Linked DNA regions of Homo sapiens: all the other regions are reported to be linked to region 1. Evidence: microRNA targets listed by miRTarBase, many of them from high-throughput screens and not tested one by one. Region 1 holds a microRNA gene; each other region holds the end of a gene's coding sequence.

Region 1 (5,514 bases):
AGGAGCAAGAATAGACCAGAAAACAGGTGCTACGTGGCCATTGGTGCATAAGCAAACCCTTGGTTCTTCCTCCTGGAACTTTTCTACAACTCCATTGACTTTCCCTTCATCTTAGCAGTATTGTCCTGTGCCTGGCTATCATTTTTGTAAACTGGAAATAAGCTTTTCTGATCCATTGTAAACTGTCCTCATGAATGAAATCCAAGCATCTCTGAGCTTTCTCCAGTCTTCAATGTGATCTCAGTGTTTAATGAATTCTGTAAAAATCTCCAGCAAATTGAGAATGCCTCTTTCCTTGCAGCTGCCTCATTCTGTATTTTTTAATAGGTTGAAGAAACATTTGCTTTATAATATTCTGTAATATTTTGTTTCAAAATGTGTACTCTTGGAATCAGCTGTAAATCATAATATATACCTTTAATAATTTTCCAACTTCAAAATTGCTTTTTTAAAAAAATAAAGAAGACATGATGCTCTCTTAACGTGAAACACTGTTTTCTAAGACTAAAATATTTTCAACAAAAAATTTCAGGTATATTCCATTTTCTTCAGTCGAGATCAAGATAGCAGAGAACAGCCAGATAAGTTCCCCATAGATCTGTCTTTACTCAAACGCTGCTATGAGTCCAAACACATTTTATTTATGAATGGTTTTTGAAATTCTCCAGTGCTTTTTATTTCTATTAGAAACTCTTTTTACAAATGACATCTCCATGAGTAAATATTTAAAAGAACAAGTGTCATAAAGAACTGAATGTTGCATCCATTATAATACTGTATTCCAATGTTAGATCTCAAGACCAAGACTCCTTGAAACTTCAATGTTATCTGCAGAATTCCAGTTTGAAAGTGCTTTCATGTTCTTAATCTTTTAGAAGTATTTTTAGTAGACAATTATATTTTACCTGTCTATCACATTCCTTTGGAGGAACTTCTTCTCCTAGTTTTAGCCATGAGAGCCAATGGTAGCAGCCATCATTTATGTCACCCCACATTCTTGGCCACATCGCTGTTCAAGAAGAGAGACCTTGAATCAACAGAGGATACATGGAATTCCAAGGCACTTGAAAAAGCCTCGTGTAACAGACACTCTTGGTTCTTTGTGCCACTCCACTGGCGTACCCATTTCTGCATGCCTGTGCTCTTGGCTCTATGTGCTTTTTGTCTAAGAGCTCACATCTGTGACTCTTTTCTGAGGTCTAGCCTAGGCTACTGAAGATGCTTTGCCTTTATGCGTTGCCTGCAGGCAAGTGCAAAGAGTCAGAAGCACTTGAAATTCATGCTCCCTGGGGTGGCCTTTGGCCAATGCCTGACTGCTTTGGGAGTTTAAAGCCCAGGAAACTTGTCTGGTGTCTGGATAACTCAGAGCATCATTTATACACTACAGTGACCTTGCAGGATAAAGCTAAGTCTGGAATTTTCCTGAAATCATACCCTTGCTTGGCTTCTTCCCCATTCCCTGTCCTGTTCCCTGTACTTCCCCCGAGCCCCCTACCTCCCATTTCCTTTCTCTTAGAGCACTTTCATTATATTAGTTTGGTGCAAAAGTAATTGCCAGTTTTGCCATTACTTTTAACGGCAAAAAACCCCAATTACTTTTGCACAAACCTAATACACATCACACGCGCACACACAGCCTCATGGCAGGGTCTACTTCTAGGGAACCTGACCCAAGCAGCATGGACTCAGGCTGGGCCAGTAAGGGAGTGTCTTTCCCTGAGATGTTCATACTTGGAGCTGGGAGGTAGCAAGCTTATCAGGATATGAGTCTGAAGCTGCTGGTGGCTTGAGAGAATGAAGCTGACCCACAGAAGAAGCAGAAACAACACTGATGCTATTGTAGTCTCTGCCTCCAGCTGCCTTTGAGGCTATCCCCACTCCTACCTTCTGAAGATGTGGCTGAGATAGTTAAGTTAGGTTCCTGTCATTTGCATCCAAGAAAACCGTAACTAAAGGGGTCAAGACTAAAGAGTTCTCAAATCCTAAAGACCCTTTTCGTGGAGAAAAGCACAGTTATACATAACTTTGTATGCAATTGCAGGGGTACACAGTCCCATTCCTTATAGTTTAGCTCAACTATATTAGCATCTTACATACACTTACAATTTTATAAGCATTAAATACTTCTGGGTTGCCCATGACTTTTCCTGACAACAGAGTTTGCCTTGCTAATCTCTTAGACGTTTTTGAGAAAAACAATAAACAGGACTTCTGTTTGGGTTTTTTCCCCAAGTAAACACAGTCACCATCACAGAAATCACAACTGATCAAGTCAATAAATAAGGAAGTTAAAAAAAAAAAGTATGTGCAAGCAGAGTACATATTCAAAACTGTGCAAATGGCCAAAATGGCCGGGCACAGTGGCTCACGCCTGTAATCCCAGCACTTTGGGAGGCCGAGGTGGGCAGATCACTTGAGGTCAGGAGTTTGAGACCAGCCTGCCCAACATGGTGAAATGCCGTCTCTACTAAAAGTACAAAATTTAGTTGGGTGTGGTGGCGCATGCCTGTAATCCCAGCTACTCGGGAGGCTGAGGCAGGGGAATTGCTTGAACCCGGGAGGTGGAGGTTGCAGTGAGCAGAGATGGCGCCATTGCACTCCAGCCTGGGGAACAAGAGCAAAACTCCATCTAAAAAAAAAAAAAAAAAAGCAAATATTCACATGAATAGAAAACGTAGGAGGCAGGAAAGATGTATCACTGGACCATTGGACTATCATCTCACATTCTTTTTTTTTTAATTATTTTTTGTAGAAACGGGGTCTCACTATGTTTACCAGGCTGGTCATGACCTCCTGGCCTCAAACGATCCTCCCACCTCAGCCTCCCAGAATGCTGGGATTACAAGCATGAGCCACTGTGTCTGGCCTATCATCTCACACTGAGCAACGTGGAAGTGACTGTAGTACATCTTTGATTGGGAAAAAATATTTACACTATTGTAAGATCAATAGAACTATGACTTAAATCCGACAATTCCCCTAGAGTTTATGAATTTTGTCATTTTTTCATGTGTCCAAGTGAAAAAACAACAATTCTCTCAGCATAGTTGGGAAAGCTCCTGTCTTCTCCCTGCCCTGCCCCCTTCAGCACCCTGACCCCACCCCCCACACAATACATTATGTCAGAAAGATTAAATGGCTTAACACCATCAGGCCCAAAATGACAGAGTCATGTTCAGGGCCTACATTTCTTTTTTTCTTCCTTTCATTTTTAGAGATGGGGTCTTGCTTTGTTGCCCAGGCTGGAGTACAGTGGCACAATCATAGCTCACTACCACCTGGAACTCCTGGGCTCAAGCGATCCTCCTGCCTTGGCCTCCCAAAGTGCTGGGATTACAAGCATGAGCTGCTGCACCCGGCCCCACATTTCTGAGTGCTAGTTCACTTCTCAGATGCACCTCACATTGTTTTCCCTGAGCCTTCTGAAGCTCCCCTTCAACCATCAAGAAACCCTCATGGTGCTGAGCATGGCAGCTCATACCTATAATTCCAGCACTCTGGGAGGCTGAGGCAGGAGAATCTCTTGAGGGCAGGAGTTTGAGACCAGCCTAGGTAACATAGCGAGAGCCTGTCTCTACAAAAAATAAAAAAATTAGCTGGGTGAGGCAGCACGTGCCTATCATCCCAGCTACTCCAAAGGCTGAGATGGGAGGATTGCTTGAGTCCAGGAGTTTGAGCCTGCAGTGAGCCATGATTGTACCACTGCACTCCAGCCTGGGCAACAGAGTAAGACCCTGTCTCGAAACAAAACGAAAAAAAACCAACTATGGGTTTGGGTTTCAGACCAGCCTGAAGCTAAGCCTGCTCACGGTGCTCTCGGGACATTTGCCTTCATCTCGCTGCATCTAGAGCAAACAGGAAGGTGTTAGGAGAGGCAGGAAGGCGGGGTTTCCATCAGCATCAGGCAGGAGGGGACAAAGGAGTTTTTCATGCCTGGCAGAATCCTCACTCTAAGATGGTAGGAATGTACAGTTACAGCTATATATCCCTTTGGGAAACTTTTTGGGAAGTAGGAAGATCTACCTCCATCTGACTGTGGTATTTTCTGCTTTATGAAAAGCAGAGATATGTGCTTTTCATGTAGCTTTATGAATGTAATCTTCTATCCTGTGACAGAAAAAGAAAGAGAAAGGAAGAAAGAGGGAGAAAGAAGGAAGGAAAGAAAGAAGAAAATGAAGGAAAGAAAGAAGAAAAGGAAGGAATGAAGAAAGGAAGGAAGAAGGAAGAAGGGAGGGAAGGAGGGAGGAAGGAATGTAGGAAGGAAGGAAGGGAGGAGAACTTGATATTTGATAACTGTGTTTGTGAGCATCTTTCTGGTCATCCTATCATCTTCTCATTTTGACAGGCACATGTCAAACTTCAGTGCTGCCTGATCTCTTTCCCTTCACTGAGACTTGATTTTATCTGGTGACAGTTTTCCTTTTAACCAGTTATCAGGAGTAGGCGGCTTGTATTCCCTTTCCCCTTTAAAATTCATACCTTTAAACTTCATAGTCACACATGTTGCTACATAACATATTACCACAGACTTAGCCACTTAAAACAACCCTCCTTTATGAGCTCACAGGGATGTGGTCCACAGGCTAGGAGAGGGCTGGGTCCTTAGGGTCTCACAGGGTCAAAATGGAGGCAGATGCTGGATGGCGCGCTTATCTGGACGTCCTTGAGAAGAAGAATCAGCTTTCGACCTCCTTCAGGCTGTTGACAGAATTCAGATCCTGTGGCTGGTGAGGACGGAGGACCCCTTCCTTGCTGGCTGTCAGGTGGGAGTGACTCTCAGCTCTAGGGGCTTCTCTGTTCCTTGCATGAGGACCCCTATATCCTCAAAGCCAGTAATAGGCGTGAATCCCCTCACGCTTTGAATTTCTCTGACTTCCTCTTCTGCTACTTTCTAGAGAAAATTCTCTGCTTTAAAGGGCTTGCCTGCTGGGCTAGGCCCACCAGTATGATCTTCATGCAGGGTGGCTGACTCGGGAGTTTAGTGACAACTGCAAAACTCTTTCATAGCTGTGCCTAGCTTAGCATTTGCATAAGTAAGGCACAGGACTCTGCATGAAGGGGTCATCTTTAGAATTCTGCGCACCACAGCTACCAACCTGGAAGCACTTTAGTCCCCTCTGGGGGTCCCGGATGAATGTGGAGGTCTCCATGTTCCAGAGATGGTAAGAGTATGTTCTGCCAGGGTGGCTTCCGCTTCTGGGGTTACTTGCTGCGTATGGCTTGGATTTTGTCTGCTAGGCCTCTCTGTCCTCTTATTCTTTTGTCTTCCTTGGGTGGGAGGTTTAGAGATTCCGCCTACATTTTTCCGAGGCTAAAAATTCTTTTTAAAAGTATGTTTGTTGAAATGTATACAGGAGCTAGTTATATTGGACTAGGAGGGCATTTTGGAGTATATAATCCCATATAATAATAGATTCAATGTCCACAGATTCTTTATTAATCAAATGAATCTCTCTCCCTCCCCGTGTGTGTGTGCATGCGTGCGTGCATGCGTGTGTGTGTTTATTTACTAGT
Region 2 (5,514 bases), not on the chromosome of region 1:
AGGAGGAGAACGAGGGCCTGGCCACCATCCCTGCCTGCTGGTGGTGGGCTACCGTCAGTATGACCACAGTGGGGTACGGGGATGTGGTCCCAGGGACCACGGCAGGAAAGCTGACTGCCTCTGCCTGCATCTTGGCAGGCATCCTCGTGGTGGTCCTGCCCATCACCTTGATCTTCAATAAGTTCTCCCACTTTTACCGGCGCCAAAAGCAACTTGAGAGTGCCATGCGCAGCTGTGACTTTGGAGATGGAATGAAGGAGGTCCCTTCGGTCAATTTAAGGGACTATTATGCCCATAAAGTTAAATCCCTTATGGCAAGCCTGACGAACATGAGCAGGAGCTCACCAAGTGAACTCAGTTTAAATGATTCCCTACGTTAGCCGGGAGGACTTGTCACCCTCCACCCCACATTGCTGAGCTGCCTCTTGTGCCTCTGGCACAGCCCAGGCACCTTATGGTTATGGTGTAAGGAGTATGCCCAGCCCCTGAGGGGAGAGATGCATGGGATATGCACCCAGGTTTCTTTTACAGTTTTTAGAATCGTTTTTAGAGGGTGGTGTGTCTGACACCATGCCTTTGCACCTTTCCATGAAATGACACTCACTGGTCTTTGCATCGTGGGCATAAAATGTTCACCTTTTTGCCAGATGAGTACACCCAGAATGCTAATTTTTCTGTCCATCGTGTACGCTATTCTAGTGCTTGTGGCCCAGTACTGTCTATGAGTTGTCGTGCTCCTGTTTCTGAGGTTGTCGTGTGAGTTCTGTACAAAAAGCCCCCACAAGTCGTCCAGTAGAAATGCATCTATGAGGTCAGCAAGGATATGATGAGATTTTGCTCACAGTCATGTGAAAACAAAATCTCAGCTCTTTATCCATTGCTTTCACTTAGTTTTAGTACCAAAACAAAGAGAATGCAAAGTTAAGCAGACTTGACCAATGCAAGTCTCTAAGTTGTTTTTATAAATGATCTGTAGTTCCGTGGCTTGCATGGGTGCACCAATCATCTTTAGAACGATGTACACTGATGTTCATCTCATAAATGTCACTCTTTAGAGAATGTTACTTAGTTAAACATGCAGTGAAGATCGAATTTTTTTCCCAAGAACAGATGTGTTAGGGAGAGGGGCTTCAGCTAAATAGTCCAAACCCTAGGGTGCTTAAAGCCAAGTTAGTGCAGGCTGAGCCCCTTGGTTCACAGTCAAGCCTCCTTGTTTCCTAGGGTGACTGTAGAGAAATGTATTTCCGGATGAGGTTTCTGATCTAGGCCATTTGACCAAACTTTGCTGTGTCTAAGATATTAGCATGTTTTTGAAATATTTATTTTTTAAGATGTTTAGGAGTAAGGTCGTGTTGTCTTCCTCAACTAAAAAGAAGTTTACTGTTGTATCGTCTCCCTGAGGTGAACGTTGTTGGGTTGCTAGCAAGGGCAGTAGCTTAAATACTTTTGTTGCCTACTCTGAAAGCTCATCAAATGAGAGCCCTTTTATTTCCAAGCAGAATTTAGTCAGATAATTTTGCTTCTAGGATATAGTATGTTGTATATGATGCTGTGATTGCCCTGGAGTTCCTGCCATGACATGGAAACCTGGTGGTATGGAAGCATGTACTCAAAATATAGACGTGCACGATGGTGGTGTGGCTTACCCAGGATGGAAACACTGCAGTTCTTACTTGCATTCCCACTGCCTTTCATGGGGGGTGACTGGGTAGAGGCCAGGAGAAAGGAAAGAGTTGTAAAATAAAAAACTGCTAGTTCATAAAATGTCATAAAAAATTGTAAACTTGAAAAGCTTAATGCTATTCAAAAGACCTTCAAGCTTCCAAACTTGTATTGAAGGGAGACGACTGTTTCCTCCTCCAAAATGCTCCTGCTCCTCTTGTTCGGTTAACCAGCACATAACATTGTGATGGGGAACCTGGGTTCCTCTATAAGATAATTCTTCTCCATCATCTTTAAGGTAATCTGATGGTTTTCCAGGTGGCTTTCATTATTGTTCCATCTTTGAAAAGGCAATAGAACCCAGGGGTCTGAGCATGGAGCTATCCAGGGTTTTCATCCAAAGGTTGGGCCTCTTCTTAAGAGGTCCTTTTGTGTTTCAGTTGATTGAAGATGATACTTACCTCATTGGAGGTGTGGCAAGGATCTTATCAGAAGGCTTTGTGTTCTTGTAGTTGTCATGGCTACTACAGTGTGGGTGATTTATTGAATGAATTCACTAGCCACTTGTGTCCTGGAGCCCCCAGTTCAAATCTTTCCATTGGACTGGAGGCTTGTGGGAGGCTGGGAGGTGGCTGTCTCCTAGTGTCTACATCCGTGTCTCTGAAGCATCAGGAAAAGTGAGATGACTTAGAGGCAACTGGGCACTGAATCAGAGGAGCAGAGTTATTTTTCAGAATTTGCACATGGAACACTTAGATTTGGCTGGTGCTTCCAGCCCTGGAAGGCATAACATTTACGGACTCATCCCCAGCTGCACTGAAGGCAGGTGGTGGTACAGACTTATGAGGACGGATCAGTTTGCCAAGGCTGATGGTATTGGGTCACTGAGCCTGGTATCCATGGCCGCTGACCAGGAAGCTTATGCAAAGTGGAAGCAAGGAACAAGGCAGAATAACTCAGTCACTTTCATGAAGATTTTTCTAAACAAGAAGGCTTACCACCAAAAAAGAGGTACCCTAGTGGTTACCCTTTGCAGATGTGAAAGCTGGAAAACTTGACTTTTCTTTTTGGTAATGACTTGCATTTATCTGGTGCCTTTCGTTGGAGGAATCCCAACGTGCTTTAGAGACTATCTTTTTAACATCTCTTGTACATACATATATACTTATATAAAATATTATCTTGCCCAACTGGACCTTTACTCACTTCTGAGCATGAGAATGTCCCAATAGCATTGAGTTTTTCAAGTGGTGGTTTCAGATAAGTGGGAGAAAGAACAACCCGGCTGGCTTAAACCCTGGAGCTAATTCCCACAAGGAATGTAGACTGAATGGTGACCCAGGGAGAAATAATCTTCCTCTCCCCTAAAGTCTCACTAAGGTTTGAAGTTTACAGGTGCTCTCCACTGGGTCTTTGATCGACCTTGCTAGATAACATCTAACCAGCAGTTTCTTTTAGTCCCTGAAGCTAACCAGGGAGAGTCAGGTTAATTTTCTGTAAAAATATGAGGTGACATCTTTGGCAACCAGGCTGTCAGACTGACCTGTAAACCTCCTTTAGGGGGACAGAGTAGAAACTGGAGATGACTTGTTTCCAGCTGTGAGCTTGAGAGAAGTGTCACTCCCAGCATTTGAAGGTTATTGTTTTCAATGCCAGTGGGCCAAATATATGGGCCAGGCTTTGATATCTGTGATGTGCATTTTGGAAGTGCTGGGTTGGGAAGTGACACGTCTGTTGCACAAATGCATATTGGTTATAGGTTTGTGTTTTCTGCCAAACCCCCACATTTCTCGGGTTTGTGAGTGAGGAAGGGCATGTTGTAATGCCAAGCTGATTTGTAGCTCGTAAGGTAGTAATTGGTATTTAACATTTGCATTTGTTATTTCTACTTATCTTAGCACTCAAATAATTGAACTACCTGCTAATTCTTGCCGCATTTCAAAGAAAATAAGTTGTTATGCACTTTGGGATAGTGGTGATCTGTACAGGCTGTGTGTTAGCTACTTGAAGGCGTAACTGGTATTTCTTGTGTGTTTTAACAGCATGACTTCTTACAGAGCTGTAATTTTTAAAATTGAGGATGCCATATTTGAGATGTCAGTTTTAACACTCATTAACACACTACTGTGCAAGCATTGACACAGGCTGCACTGAACCATTATGTCTGATTGCTGCACTTTCATCTCTGTGCCTCGATTCGGGAATGGGCAGTAATACTGACACACTCGGGACTCCAGCCTCAAAAAGTGTGCAGATTAAATAGACAAAAATTATTTGCATCTCTTGGAGGCATTTCAATTACATATGCAGTAGCAAACAAGGAGGGCATTCAAAGTTGGGGACCAGATTTCCTGAGAAAGCCTGGGTGTTTTTTTTGTTTGTTTGTTTGTTTGTTTTTGCAATTTGGGGAAGGAGAAGCTGTTGTTTATTCTTGGTAAAGGCGGAGTCCTAGTTTTCTAGGATCTCGAACCACTAGCCTCCTTGGTAGAAGGAATGGTCCTGTATTCTTGTAACTCTTGTGAAACAGACACCCCTGCAGGATTTTCCTCCTGCATGCTTTCCTGCTCAGCACCTCTGTCAGCCTGCCCTGCCAGCCCCAACCTGTCCCAAAGTACCACTCTCCCTGCTGCCGAAGTAGGCTCCCTAATAGTAAATTGGGGAACCCTGAGTGTCCTGGCTGGTTGGGCATGAATACTGCTGGGGGATACATAGAGACACTTCTTGGCATTACTTAAAATAGACTGAGTATGGGCCGGTCCAAAGGCCATGGTGAATCGGTAGGAAGGCCACTGGGCTGACTTGGTTCTGCTGGGTTTTGCCTCCAGCTCTGTGATTGTAGGCACATCCTGTGGCCTCTCCAAGCCTCACCTTCCACTGCTGCAAAATGAGAAGGTTGGATTAGATAATCCTTAAAGCCCTCCCTACCCACTTCTTCACCTCAATATAAAAACAGAATTTCTGCATGTCTCTCTATGTCCTCATTCTAGCCATGAGCCGATCCTGATATCCCTAATTTATTTTTAAGAAGAGCAGAGAGATTGCTTACAAACAACCTTCTATTTGGTTTCATTTCCTCTTCAGCAGTCAGCTACAATAGACGACAGTTGCAGGGACAATGCAATCAGGAAAATGCTTGAGCTAGGTTCTGATCCAAGTGAATCAAGTTTTAAAATCATCAGCTTGTCTCCTTTGGGATTTCCACTATTTCCACCTATGTACACGGAATCCAGATTCCTCCTATTAACAATCATTAGGCAGAGGAAAATCAATAAGATCCCATTCGACTTCAGGGCTAACTCTTTGCTCATTTTGGTTTGTTGCCTTTGTGAAGGCTAGGAGATCCCCTACCTGTTCCCATGAGGTTATTGGGCCCCAGAAGGGGCCCTGAGGTGTATGGAGCAGATGGCTCTCCCATCCAACACTCAACTCACACTGAGCAGTGGTGGCATCTGCAGGTGGCCTCGTCTGTGTATGCAGCAAAAGGGTGTAGAAATCTGTGTTAACCTTGCCCCGCACTCGTTAAGGCTGAGGAAGGACGCACAGCACTGCTCTCCAACCTCACCACAGTCTTTGCGTTCCATCAAGTGGGGTGTAGCTCAGCTCCTCCCCTTTAGCCACCATCCCTGCAGCAAGGGTATAAATGGATATTCAGGGGGTATTTTAGGGCCAGGATGCCTTACATCTTAAAAGGAAAAACAAACACCTCCCCTTGAGGGAAGAACTTAAATGTTGCATGTACACGGTTATTATCTCCTCCTACTTTTAGGAGAAATTTAAACTAGCATTTCCACCCAAGGCCCTTACATGGCTGTTACATCCGGTCAATGGTGCAGGTCTGAAACTCTGCAACAT
Region 3 (5,514 bases), not on the chromosome of region 1:
TCTGATACTTCCTGGTGGTCTGAGTTAGGTTGTAAGAAAGGCACCTATAAAGAATCTCAACCCACTTCCCACTCAAAAGCACTGTGTATTTCTCATGGCCTGCCTGGGAGCCCCCATCTCCAGCCTGCTGTGCTGGCTACTTCTGGCACTTATAGCCCTTGAGATAGTACCGCCAGCAGCTCCCTGTGAAGTGCTAACACCCCTTCAAAGCAGCACCAACCCAATTGTGAACAAGCTAGGAGTAAAAGACGTAAATGAATTGGTCACCCCAATGCAGGGGATACAGACTTGTTTTAATATAAAAAAGAAGTGGCCTTAACCGTGCAGGGCTTGCAGGCCTTTGTAGGCATGGGAGCATGCTGTGATCCCTGGTTCTGTGCTAAACACTCAAAAGGGCTCTCTGACTCAAGTGGAGGTGATAAACCTTTTCAATAGTAACAGGAGAGAGTGTGATATCAAAGTGCCAGAAGTCCTCACGGACCAACATTTAGCACAGACATTCAAACTGCTGAAAGAACCAAACAGAACTCAACTGAAAAAAACAGACCTTTTAAGAAAAGCAATAGATCTTAATTTGGTGGCAAGATCCCTGGTTTACCTTTTGAAGTCAAAATGTTCAATACATCACCCGAGCTTGACTTTTGAGCACTTGGCAAGATTGTTTTTTGCCACTTGACACAAGTATGATGTCCAGCTATGCAAAATGACTGTTTGATCTGCCTTTTCAGTGTATTTGTGTGGCGATGTCTGTAAAATGCCAGAAGCCTCTTATGTTATTGCTGCTGCTGCTACCAGCCAGCAACTGCAGAGGCCATGCTGAGGTGCCTCCTTGCCACCAGCCGTTGGGAAATGCCTACCATGCTGCCCCGGATGCACAAGCTCAAAACGCTGCAGAAGTTACACAACTGCTCCCATAATCTGGACTCTCCAAAACCGTGATGCCACGAAGGAAGGTCAAGTTTTAAAATGTTAAAGACTGCTTGCCTCTGTTCCTGAGACTAAACAGTATACATACTAACTACATTGACAAAGAAATCCTATCTGATAATGTAGCCCGCTGACGAATTTTGAAGCCTCGGTTACCCTAACCAATATGTAGCTTTTAATTTGCATCAAAACTTTTACAAAGATGTTTTGCTATTGTTTCTATATACTTCAAGAATGTTCATTTTTACAAATAAGTTGAACAAGACAGCCTAAGTTAGATGCACCGAAGTACTAGAAATATCGCTAGCCTCTGTTCTCCAGTTTAGCTTTCAAAACCAAATGAGCCATGTATAAAGGAGTTGAGAAACTTAATTTTTAAATGTTTCATTTGCAGAGTTTTATATCCATTAAGTGCCTTTGAAAGTTTCCAGTTGTGTGGGCTGCTGTCTCACCTCCCACCAATTTCTCCTTTCTCCATATGGTGCTAAAACCTCAAAGCTGAGGAGGGCTGCAGGACCCTTAGCAGATTCAGTGTGTCACCCTTGTCCTGTGTTCACGCCAAGGCTTCCTAAATGAAAGACATCGGTTACCTGCTTATGGGAAGGTGAGCAGCAAAGGAATTGAAGTTCGGGACAGGGTAGAATTATGGGTTTTCATTGTGTTTCATGCCAAACCCACAAAATCCAAAATAGAATTCAAGTTAAACAAACTTCTACTACAAAATGGAAGGGGAAAAAGGCTCAGGAAGGTCTATGAGAATGAGCTGACTTATCTCGTTAAATCTTAAGATAAATGAGGGTAACCCAAGGCTGCACCTTGGTGTACCACCCTGAGTGGAGTTGAGGTGACTTCATTTGATTGCTTCAGGCGAACTATATAGGTCAAGTCCAGATTATAAAAAAATTATCTGCAGAACAAATTGTAAACCCAAGGAATAGCTGGTAAATCAAAATTATAAAGTGAGTTAGAGTTCCTTGGAGTTGGTTGTATGACGGAATATGACTTGGACAATCTTTACCAGAAGCCATCCGTAAGCCCCTCAGTCACACTTTCCATGTAGCTGACCAGTGACTACAGGATGTGGCTGACAGTGCTCACTGAAAGGAGAGTTGGTGCGGGACTGGTGGTTCTGAGCACATAGACGCCTATTAGTCCTTCTGGTCAGTGAACGAAAATTCTAGACCTACAGTTACTGGCTACTTGCATTTGTCAGTTTAGAGAAAAGGTAAAATGAGGCATTTTCAATTGTAGAATAGACTAACATTTACCACAGAAGTGCTTCAGCATTCTAAATGGATTAGATCACTCATTAAGCTATTTTTATATGCCAATTTACTAATGCCTTACATCAATCCACTAATAGGTTGTTGGGCCCGCAGTAGAGTCCCTATGCAGTCCCAATTCTGTTTTCTGTAACCATGTGACTGGTGATGCAGAGTGATAACCATGTCTGCCTATCTTGTACTAGACTCTTCATGCTGATCGGATCTTGCATTGAAATAACCATGTGGAAGAACAATGAATCGATTAATGATGACATGTACAACCATATTTAAAGAGCAATAGTGTCCGTGTGTCATGAAAAACTTATTTGTAAACGTTTATATGGTATGATTTTGATTTTATGTATGTTCATAAATCCTGCACTGTATGATATATGTGAGTTAAAACATTGGTGCATGAATTTATTTTCAAAGTATAAAACACATCACTTAAACATTTTATGTGTCAAATAAAATTTGATTATGTAAACACATTTGTTGACTTTTGTTTCCACAGTAAACAAACAAACAGCTGCACCATCAGCTGAAAAAAACCCTTCTAAAAGCACAAGCTACCATTCGCTGGTTGAAGCAGTTTACCCACTGTGTGCATTTTTAATCTGCTGCAATTTCATGAAATGAAAATACCAAAGCATATTTTAAGTCTATAAGCTTTATTGATACTTTGCTTTTACAGTTCACAATGCATTCCACAGATTTAGTTCAGTACAGCTTAAACCACAATGGTATAAATCTTCATTTTGTAATTAATAATTTCTTGCATAACAATGTTTGATATTTGCAAACAAACAACATTTTTGGAAGCATTAGATTCAGTCCATAGATTCTGTGACAAAATTAACTACAGTCAGTCTGTGCAATGAAATTGATGTTGGAGTTCTATGTGTGTGGCATTTCATGTTGAAAACAGATGGTAGTGCTCCTAGAAATATTTCTTCTTCTAGCTTATGTGCTTTGGAACTACACATGTATAACCAATGACTGACTCTGAAATATCAAGCACTGTGGGGTGGCTGGAAGGTAAAGGTCTAAGCTTTGTGAAACACTATACATATATAATCTATATTTACTTATATTGGCAATTAATATAACAGTAAAAGTCACAATACACCTAGAACATACCAGAAAAGCAAGCTTTGTCATTCCTGCTTTACCGGTATGATCTCGTCTAAACAAACATTTCATTTCAGAAAATCTGCATCAATCTACACGGACCATACACAGTGCACAAACTGAAAAGGGCTTTTTTTTTTTTTTTTCTAGCTCCACCATCTCTGCAACTTGCCAAGATGCGGCAAGACTATCTGCAACAAAGTAAAATATACAGGTTTTTTATTCCACCAGTGCCTCAGATAGATAGGAAAAAGATATGATTACGGTTTAAATCCATACATAGCAGCTTACAATACTTAAGATGATGAACACATGGCAGTCAAGACAGGTAATTTTTCCTCACAACAGTGCATGGCTAAAAATAAAGATCTAACAACGATCTGTGAAACTGCACTGCAACGTCAAGGTTCGTTCTTCCCTGACCCTCCCCCGTATAATCAAATGAATATCCCCTTTAAAGATGAACTCCTACTAATTATTTTGGGCGTTTTCATTCAGCTTTGCGCTTCAATCCAGGGATTTTTGCTTGGATTCTGAAAATGAAAAAGTCAATGTAAATATCAGTTTTGTTTGCTGCTGCTTAAAATACCATCTTCCAAGAACTACTTGTATGTTATTCAGCTAATACAATAAATGAAATCCTTAAAGCTGCCTAATTCTAAGCTATAATTTTGCCACCTTGGCCTCATGAATTAGATTTAAACAAAGCCTTAAACACATAATAAACCCAGAAACGAATGGTCCAAATGTTAGAAAAACAATCTTTTGGCAACTCTGAAGTCACACTTAAGGTCTGATAGAGATTTGTTACTCATTATGCCTGCAATATGAAAATACTGTTCTCACAATCCAGCACACCTTATCCTAGTAAAAACACTGCAGATTTTAAATACTTACTTAGCCATAGCATCTTTAACATTCTTATTTGCAAGTCCTAGATAATGATCTATCTGTGCCTGAAAGAGAGGTATAAAGGAATTATTACCGTTGCTAAAGAATCTTATTAACCACTACTATGTGTCAAGCTAAAGGCTTAAGAAACCATCACACTTCTCATTTTTGTAAGACATTGAAAATGGGCACTAATACATCCGTAAATCCCATGTAATAGAGTGAGTGCTCTATTCTGAAGTCAGCAGTTAGTTAGGAAATTACCTGATGCCGTTCATAAATAACAGGAACACTGAAGAGTGAAATGAGAGCTGAAAAGGGAAATATACAACTTTTCAAAAAGAACGGAATGATTTGGGAGGAATAAACACTCAAAAAACTATTAAACTGGCAACTCAAGATAACCAAGCAGTGTTCCTAATGAATGAATAAAAACATAAGGATCTCTGGATGCATCTGCTGTTGAGGAGCCACTCCAGAGGAATGAATGAACTGTGTGAGGCTGCAGTTATTAGAGCTAGGAACCATTTCTAGCTTCAAATCATATCACAGTGAGATTTCATAAAATAAAGGTATCCCTGGTTAGATTTATGACTGCACCATCATATAAAGCCACCCTTTATCTGGTTTATCACTGTTTGTTAGTAGGAGCTGTCTTCAGCAACTAAGGTAGCATTTCAATAAACCGGGAAGCAGTATCACCAACTTATTTAAAGAGAATACAACCTCAAACTTATTTTGAGATGGAGTTTCACTCTTGTTGCCCAACCTGGAGTGCAATGGCACGATCTCCGCTCACTGCAACCTCTGCCTCTTGGGCTCAAGTGATTCTCCTGCCTCAGCCTCCGGAGTAGCTGGGATTACAGGCGTGCGCCACCACGCCCAGCTAATTTTTTCTATTTTTAGTAGAAATGGGGTTTCACCATGTTAGCCAGGCTGGTCTCGAACTCCTGGCCCCAGGTGATCCGCCCACCTTGGCCTCCCAAAGTGCTGGGATTACAGGCATGAGCTACCGCGCCCGGCCCACATTTTCATCCCCTACTTTTCATACAATGAGAATATTCTCCACTAAAATGTCTAAGCTCCTGGCACACAATCTTTCCAGCAATTTTTCATCCCAATGGCTTTGTAGACTTACCCAAAATCAGTAGTGTCAGACCATTAAACAAGGCACCAACATAGGTAAATACCCACATCAACACTGCAAACTATAAGAAAATAACATTAGCCCATTATAAACAAAATTCAAGTAAAGTTTCTTAATTATGCTTTCAAAAGCATCCCATCTAAATGCCTACCT
Region 4 (5,514 bases), not on the chromosome of region 1:
AGTTTAAATAAAGCAGTGGCTTGTCCTAAGAGTCTTTCAGTTGATTCTCTCTGTGTTTCTTATTCTGGTCAGGTAGCTCTGGACAAATGACAGTATTTCAGTATTTTAATTTCTCGTTTTTAAAAATAGAGTTATACAGCCAAAGAAAAACCAGTAAAAATCTTGATTAATTGCAAAATCATTGTTAAAATGTTTCACAGCATAAATAACAGCTTTTGTGGGCGGGGGGGGGGGGTGGTGGGGTGCAATTTATCAACATCTTCCAAAATGTTAAATGCAAATGTCTTTTGACTCAGCAGTTCTACTTTTGAGGTATCTGAAGACCCACACATGCCTGAGAGAAATGTACAGATGTTCAGCGCAGTACTGTTAAACAGCAAAAAATAGGAAACAATCTAAATGTCCATCAGTAAGGGAATGATGAAAAATATTATGGATCATATACAAGTGAGATCGAAAAAAGAAAAAATATGTATTATGGAGCACCATACTGTGGAATGTCACGTACATGACTGAATTATGTGACTAAAGAGAACAATGAATATGAGTACATAATTTACAAGGATCTCTCTAATCCCTTTTCCACTTATTTTTAAAATGGTATTTAGTATATCTGCAAAATTATTTATTTCTAGTAGACAAGGCCTCACTATGTTGCCCAGGCTAGTGTCAAACTCCTGGCCTCAAGTGATCCTCCCACCTCGGCCTCCCAAAGTGCTGGGATTATAAGTGTGAGCCACTGTGCCTGGCTTTCCACTGACTTTCTATTTCTGGATTCCAGAGTCTGCATACCCTTGCCCACCACTGCTCATGCTCACTTACAGGTTTAGTCATACTATTGCAGATTTTATTCCTACTTCCTTCTTTTCAGTGGATGCCCAATAAATTCAACTATTTAAGCTAAGCACAGTGGTGTGTCCCTGTAATCCCAGCTACTTGAGAAACTGAGGCGGGAGGATTGTTTGAGCAGATTTGGAGACCAACCTGGGCAACATAGAGATTCTATGTAATCTCTCATGTCAAAATAAGTAAAAATTCCACTAATTAGAAGGTCCAAACCAATGCACATGTCTAAAGTCATCTAGCATTTCTTCCTGGTAGAGATTACCTTAGACTGAACCCCCCTGGAAGACGAGCATTACATATTCTGGAGTGTGGCATATTATGTTTGTGTCATTCCATGTTGTATGGTTATCTGTCATGATGTATCGTGAAACAAGCAATTCTATAACAGAGCACTATTTTGCCTCATTACTCTGGGAGCAATGTGGCATAGACCCATGGAATTTCCCAAGTTGTGGCAAGTGTTATTAGCACTGCCTTGGTATTAAGAGGACAAGAAAATGAACCACCATCTTTTGCTGGATAGACAATCAAATCACTTTCTGGCTTTTATCTACTTTTAAAATACATTTCAAGGGTCATTTGAAAATGACACAAAGCACAAATATGAAAAGAAATTCAAATATTATCACACTCCCTAATAAAACAGCCTAATTACCAAAGGCTCACATTTTAGCAAGTTAATTCTAAGACTTAAGCTGTGTACGGTGTGTGCAAATTTGCAGATACCTTACCATCACATGCAAGTGTCTTACTGCTACTGAAAGCTATCAGACCCTTTCAGGAGGCGTGTTGTACCAAGCAGACCTAAATGTGAACTTTCATCAAGGACCTTTTTAGGAGGCGTATTGTACCAAGCAGACCTAAATGTGAACTTTCATCAAGGACTATGTGATGTCAAGCAAGGCAGTACCCATGTATTTCATTCAAAAACCAGTTGTCTCTCCTGTGTTTTTTTTTTTTTTTTGAGATGGAGTCTTGCTCTGTCACCCAGGCTGGAGTGCAGTGGCACAATCTCGGCTCACTGCAACCTCCGCCTCCCGGGTTCACGCCATTCTCCTGCCTCAGCCTCCTGAGTTACTGGGACTACAGGCGCCCAGCACCACGCTTGGCTAATTTTTTGTATTTTTAGTAGAGGCGGGGTTTCACCACGTTAGCCAGGATGGTCTCAATCTCCTGACCTCGTGATCTGCCCGCCTTGGCCTCCCAAAGTGCTGGGATTACAGGCGTGAGCCACTGCGCCCGGCCTCTCCTGTAGTTTTCAACATAGTTAAATCCTACAATGTCTGAGCAATGGTTACAATTCCTTAGGTAGTAAGGGAAATACCTGTTGAATGGCAGTTTGTGTTACATGGGCGCTTTTCTTATCTTTATCATTTAATCATTACCCCTCGGGTACACAGGACACACAAATTTCATTTTTCAGATTTCACTTTAAGAAAATTAATAAATACAGCAAACATTAACAACACTGTGATGGGACGATCATCAGAACTGTGGTAACTAATCAGCAATAGCTCTCAACCTTTGCACAGCAAAGTTAGGAAATTTGACTCGTTAATCAATATGCCATATGCCTATCTTTAAAATACAAAAAAACTAAGATTTATACATCTTAGTTCATTAGTTTTAAAAAGCATCTTCATTTTAAAAGTTGGCCCAATTAATTATAGATTTAGTCTTTTCTTGATGTCAACAAAGTCTTTAAACCCCACAGCACTGTAACTATCTTGGCATTAAAATAGTTTCTATACACTTTCTAAAAAAAATCATCTTCAGTTACAAGGCTTTACACTTATCTAAATTGCCTCCCACTTCCATTTACTTGAGTTTTAGACATCCAACTTCTAGGGGATACTGTTAGAACACCAAACCATACTAATCTTCAGATTGAAGAGGGGTTTTGTCCATTTTCTTAAGATCTGTGGTCAAGAATAAACCCTAAAAAAACTGTTCCCATTCTCAACATCTTAAAAAAATGGTAGTTGTCATGACGTACCTACTAAAGTTACAAATTCTCCTTGAGCCAGAATTCATTTTAAATGGATCAGAATTATTAATGTTGGTGATTAATGGTGATTTCTATACAGTAGAAACTTCCATCTAAATCAGATTGAGTCATTTGCTCCTCTTAACAAAAAATCTGATGTTCGACACAATTGCAGCCTATCACTAACCCTGCTGTTCGCTTGCATGTATCTTGTTTTTAAAAATCTTGTTTAAATCATTCTGAAAGTAAAACTAGTTTTTCCTCCTTTATATATAGCACCGAATACTTGCAATGTTTGACAAAACCTTTTATCAGCCCATTAACCTATTTATAAGCATAAAGTGAGTATTTTTAAAGGGAAAAACTTTGCCATCCCTTATACTTATTTAAAAGGTACTGCTAAGAGGTATTATTAGAAACAAGATTTAAAAATATGTAACAAAATCTTAAGTTCTTAAGTGAAAGCCATTTAACTAGTATTTAAAACCTCTGCAATTATTAGTTTATTAGTATCATCCAGGACTCAGATGTTCAGTATTCCTCCTGAAATTACATAAACAAATGCAAATGGAAAGAATCCAAGTCTAAATTATATAACAAAACAGCACTCCATCACAAAAGCGTGTAAAATTACAAGAACGCTATTTTAAAATACTGGCACTTTAAGAAAACGATAATCTCGAAAACCACAAAATTGCCAAATTGTTCCCTAAACTCCTAAGCAGATAAACATGACTAATGAATGAGTTTGTTTTGTAAAGAAAAATCATTCAAATAAATTGAATAATTCATACTGAGATGCAAAGTTTGTCTTCTTTCTTCCTATCTACTTGGATTTATAAAGGGGCAAACCGTAATATAGGAAAATATACCCTATTTTGAATGTGGCATCTTTGTTTGAAAAGCTGGCCCAATTAATTAAAAATACTTGTAATGGAAAGTCTCGTTTCCTGAGCAGTCCATATTTAGATAAATGGGAAAAGACATCTATAGCCAGCATTTTCATAGTCTTCACTGAGACTAATGTCAACAAAAAATTTAATATGGCAGTCTTGTATTTTAAGCTCACGCTTTTGGGGATACATTCTCAGGTCTTCTTTAATGTGGGAACTGCAAAATATAACTGCCATTACATGGTAATGGGAGTTAAAGAATAGAGTCCTCATGTAAAGGTTAGAACATACTTTTCTATTAGTCCTTCAAGGACAGACTTTCAAAATGTTTGATTCTAATAATCCCATGCTTTGAGTAGATTGATTACTCTTCAGTTTGTAAATGTAAGTGGGCTATGTGAAATTTCTTAACTGATCAAGATTTTGGATGTTCAGTTATGGATGAAAACTATCTCAACTTAACTTTACCCCCATTATGATATGCAGGGTGTGTAGACAAAAGCTTTTTATTAGCTAACTATATGAAAGGATAAACACTGTAATAATTCATGTGATTCAAAATGGGCAAAAGCAAAAGACTAGCTTCCCCTCAAGAAGAAAAATTTCAGACCTATGAAAAGGACAACAATACTAATAAAAAAAATTGTATTTACTTAGAAGCATTCAGAATGTCAACAAAACAGCTGCAACTTTTTTTTTTTTTTTGCAATTACAGAGTGGTATTCAGTTAACAGAACAACAATTATTTCGTATAAGCTGCATCAGAGACAACTGAAGATGAAAAAACTACCATCCCCATATATAACTAATTTGTGCTGTGCACCAACAAGAACCTGCTTTAAATTTCCATGCCAATTTACAACCCCCATACTGTACCAGGCAAGGTTAGTGGCTATTGAAAATACCACCAGGACAGGGCTATCTAAAGACACATTCGGTAGTGTGTTAACTATACAAAAAAAGACACTGTACAGTTTAAAAACAAATCTTACACAGCCTTACATTTCAATTTTTTTCTTTAAAAGGAGTGAGTTGTGTACAGGGGGGTTAAATGCTTTATAGACAAGAAAAAAAAAACTGCGCTAGAACCAACTTATTCATCATCATCATCTTCTTCTTCATCTTCATCTTCTTCATCTTCCTCCTCCTCCTCATCCTCTTCATCTTCCTCATCTTCCTCCTCTTCCTTCTTTTTCTTGCTTTTTTCAGCCTTGACAACTCCCTTTTTTGCTGCATCAGGCTTTCCTTTAGCTCGATATGCAGCAATATCCTTCCAAAGCAAAGGGAGGATAAAACAGTAGGGAAGAAAAAAACATTAAGGAAAGAAATAGAACATGGCAGAACTTTATGAAAGAAATCAAGATTCTAGTTATACCAAAATATCACGTATCTGTAGATCCACAGCAACTCCAGAAATAACTAGAACTTCAATAAATGAACATAAAAATACAAGATCATTATAACAATCTATAACTCATGAAATGGCATAGTCTAATATTTGCAAAGTTATGCCTCATTGAGGTGCAATTATGTACCACATCCTAACTCTATTAAAACCAGAATGTAGAGACTTTGATTAAAGGGTAGACACTGCCACCTTCTGAATGCAAAAAAGCACTCTACAGGTTTACACTGTCAGACCTTAATCCTTAGTAGGAAATGTGGTCTTAAAAAAAAAAGGTAATTTGTCAATAAACATGCAATTAGGTTAAGAAACATCTAGAAATAAACACTTTTCAGAATGACTAAAGCTGAAAATTAAGTATTTAATATTTCAATTTACTGAAC

Evidence for each region. Region 1 holds the annotated microRNA hsa-miR-548a-3p (CAAAACUGGCAAUUACUUUUGC, at 1,542-1,563, opposite strand). A microRNA usually pairs through its seed, bases 2 to 8, with sites in the 3' UTR of a target mRNA and lowers its output. Matches are read on the target gene's strand: a 7mer-m8 pairs with bases 2 to 8, a 7mer-A1 pairs with bases 2 to 7 and ends in A, and an 8mer does both.
Region 2: the mRNA of KCNS2 is a reported target of hsa-miR-548a-3p. Seed matches in the 3' UTR shown: 7mer-m8 at 529-535, 7mer-A1 at 890-896 and 8mer at 3,761-3,768.
Region 3: miRTarBase lists EML6 as a target of hsa-miR-548a-3p. Seed matches in the 3' UTR shown: 7mer-A1 at 958-964 and 7mer-A1 at 1,322-1,328.
Region 4: the mRNA of HMGB1 is a reported target of hsa-miR-548a-3p. Seed matches in the 3' UTR shown: 7mer-m8 at 4,800-4,806, 7mer-A1 at 3,080-3,086 and 7mer-m8 at 2,790-2,796.

The regions. Positions count from the first base shown.
Region 1 is chr6:135,235,269-135,240,782 of GRCh38, reverse strand. It overlaps MIR548A2 (microRNA 548a-2), which reads right to left and starts at 1,623; the gene lies at 1,527-1,623. It overlaps LOC105378011 (a long non-coding RNA gene), which reads left to right and starts at 4,588. Exons shown (of 3, transcript XR_001744368.2): 1 at 4,588-4,763.
Region 2 is chr8:98,429,034-98,434,547 of GRCh38, forward strand. It overlaps KCNS2 (potassium voltage-gated channel modifier subfamily S member 2), which reads left to right. Exons shown (of 2, transcript NM_020697.4): 2 at 1-3,820. The coding sequence ends at 380. It also overlaps a transcript of STK3 not described here. Among named protein-coding and RNA genes, the nearest start is that of KCNS2, 4.8 kb to the left of the region's middle.
Region 3 is chr2:54,969,343-54,974,856 of GRCh38, forward strand. EML6 (EMAP like 6) reads left to right here. Exons shown (of 42, transcript NM_001039753.4): 42 at 729-2,683. The coding sequence ends at 753. RTN4 (reticulon 4) reads right to left here. Exons shown (of 9, transcript NM_020532.5): 6 at 5,353-5,422; 7 at 4,479-4,525; 8 at 4,221-4,279; 9 at 2,847-3,856. The coding sequence ends at 3,814. Among named protein-coding and RNA genes, the nearest start is that of RTN4, 78 kb to the right of the region's middle. RefSeq lists a silencer at 5,120-5,321.
Region 4 is chr13:30,456,538-30,462,051 of GRCh38, forward strand. It overlaps HMGB1 (high mobility group box 1), which reads right to left. Exons shown (of 5, transcript NM_002128.7): 5 at 167-4,996. The coding sequence ends at 4,820. Among named protein-coding and RNA genes, the nearest start is that of HMGB1, 6.6 kb to the right of the region's middle.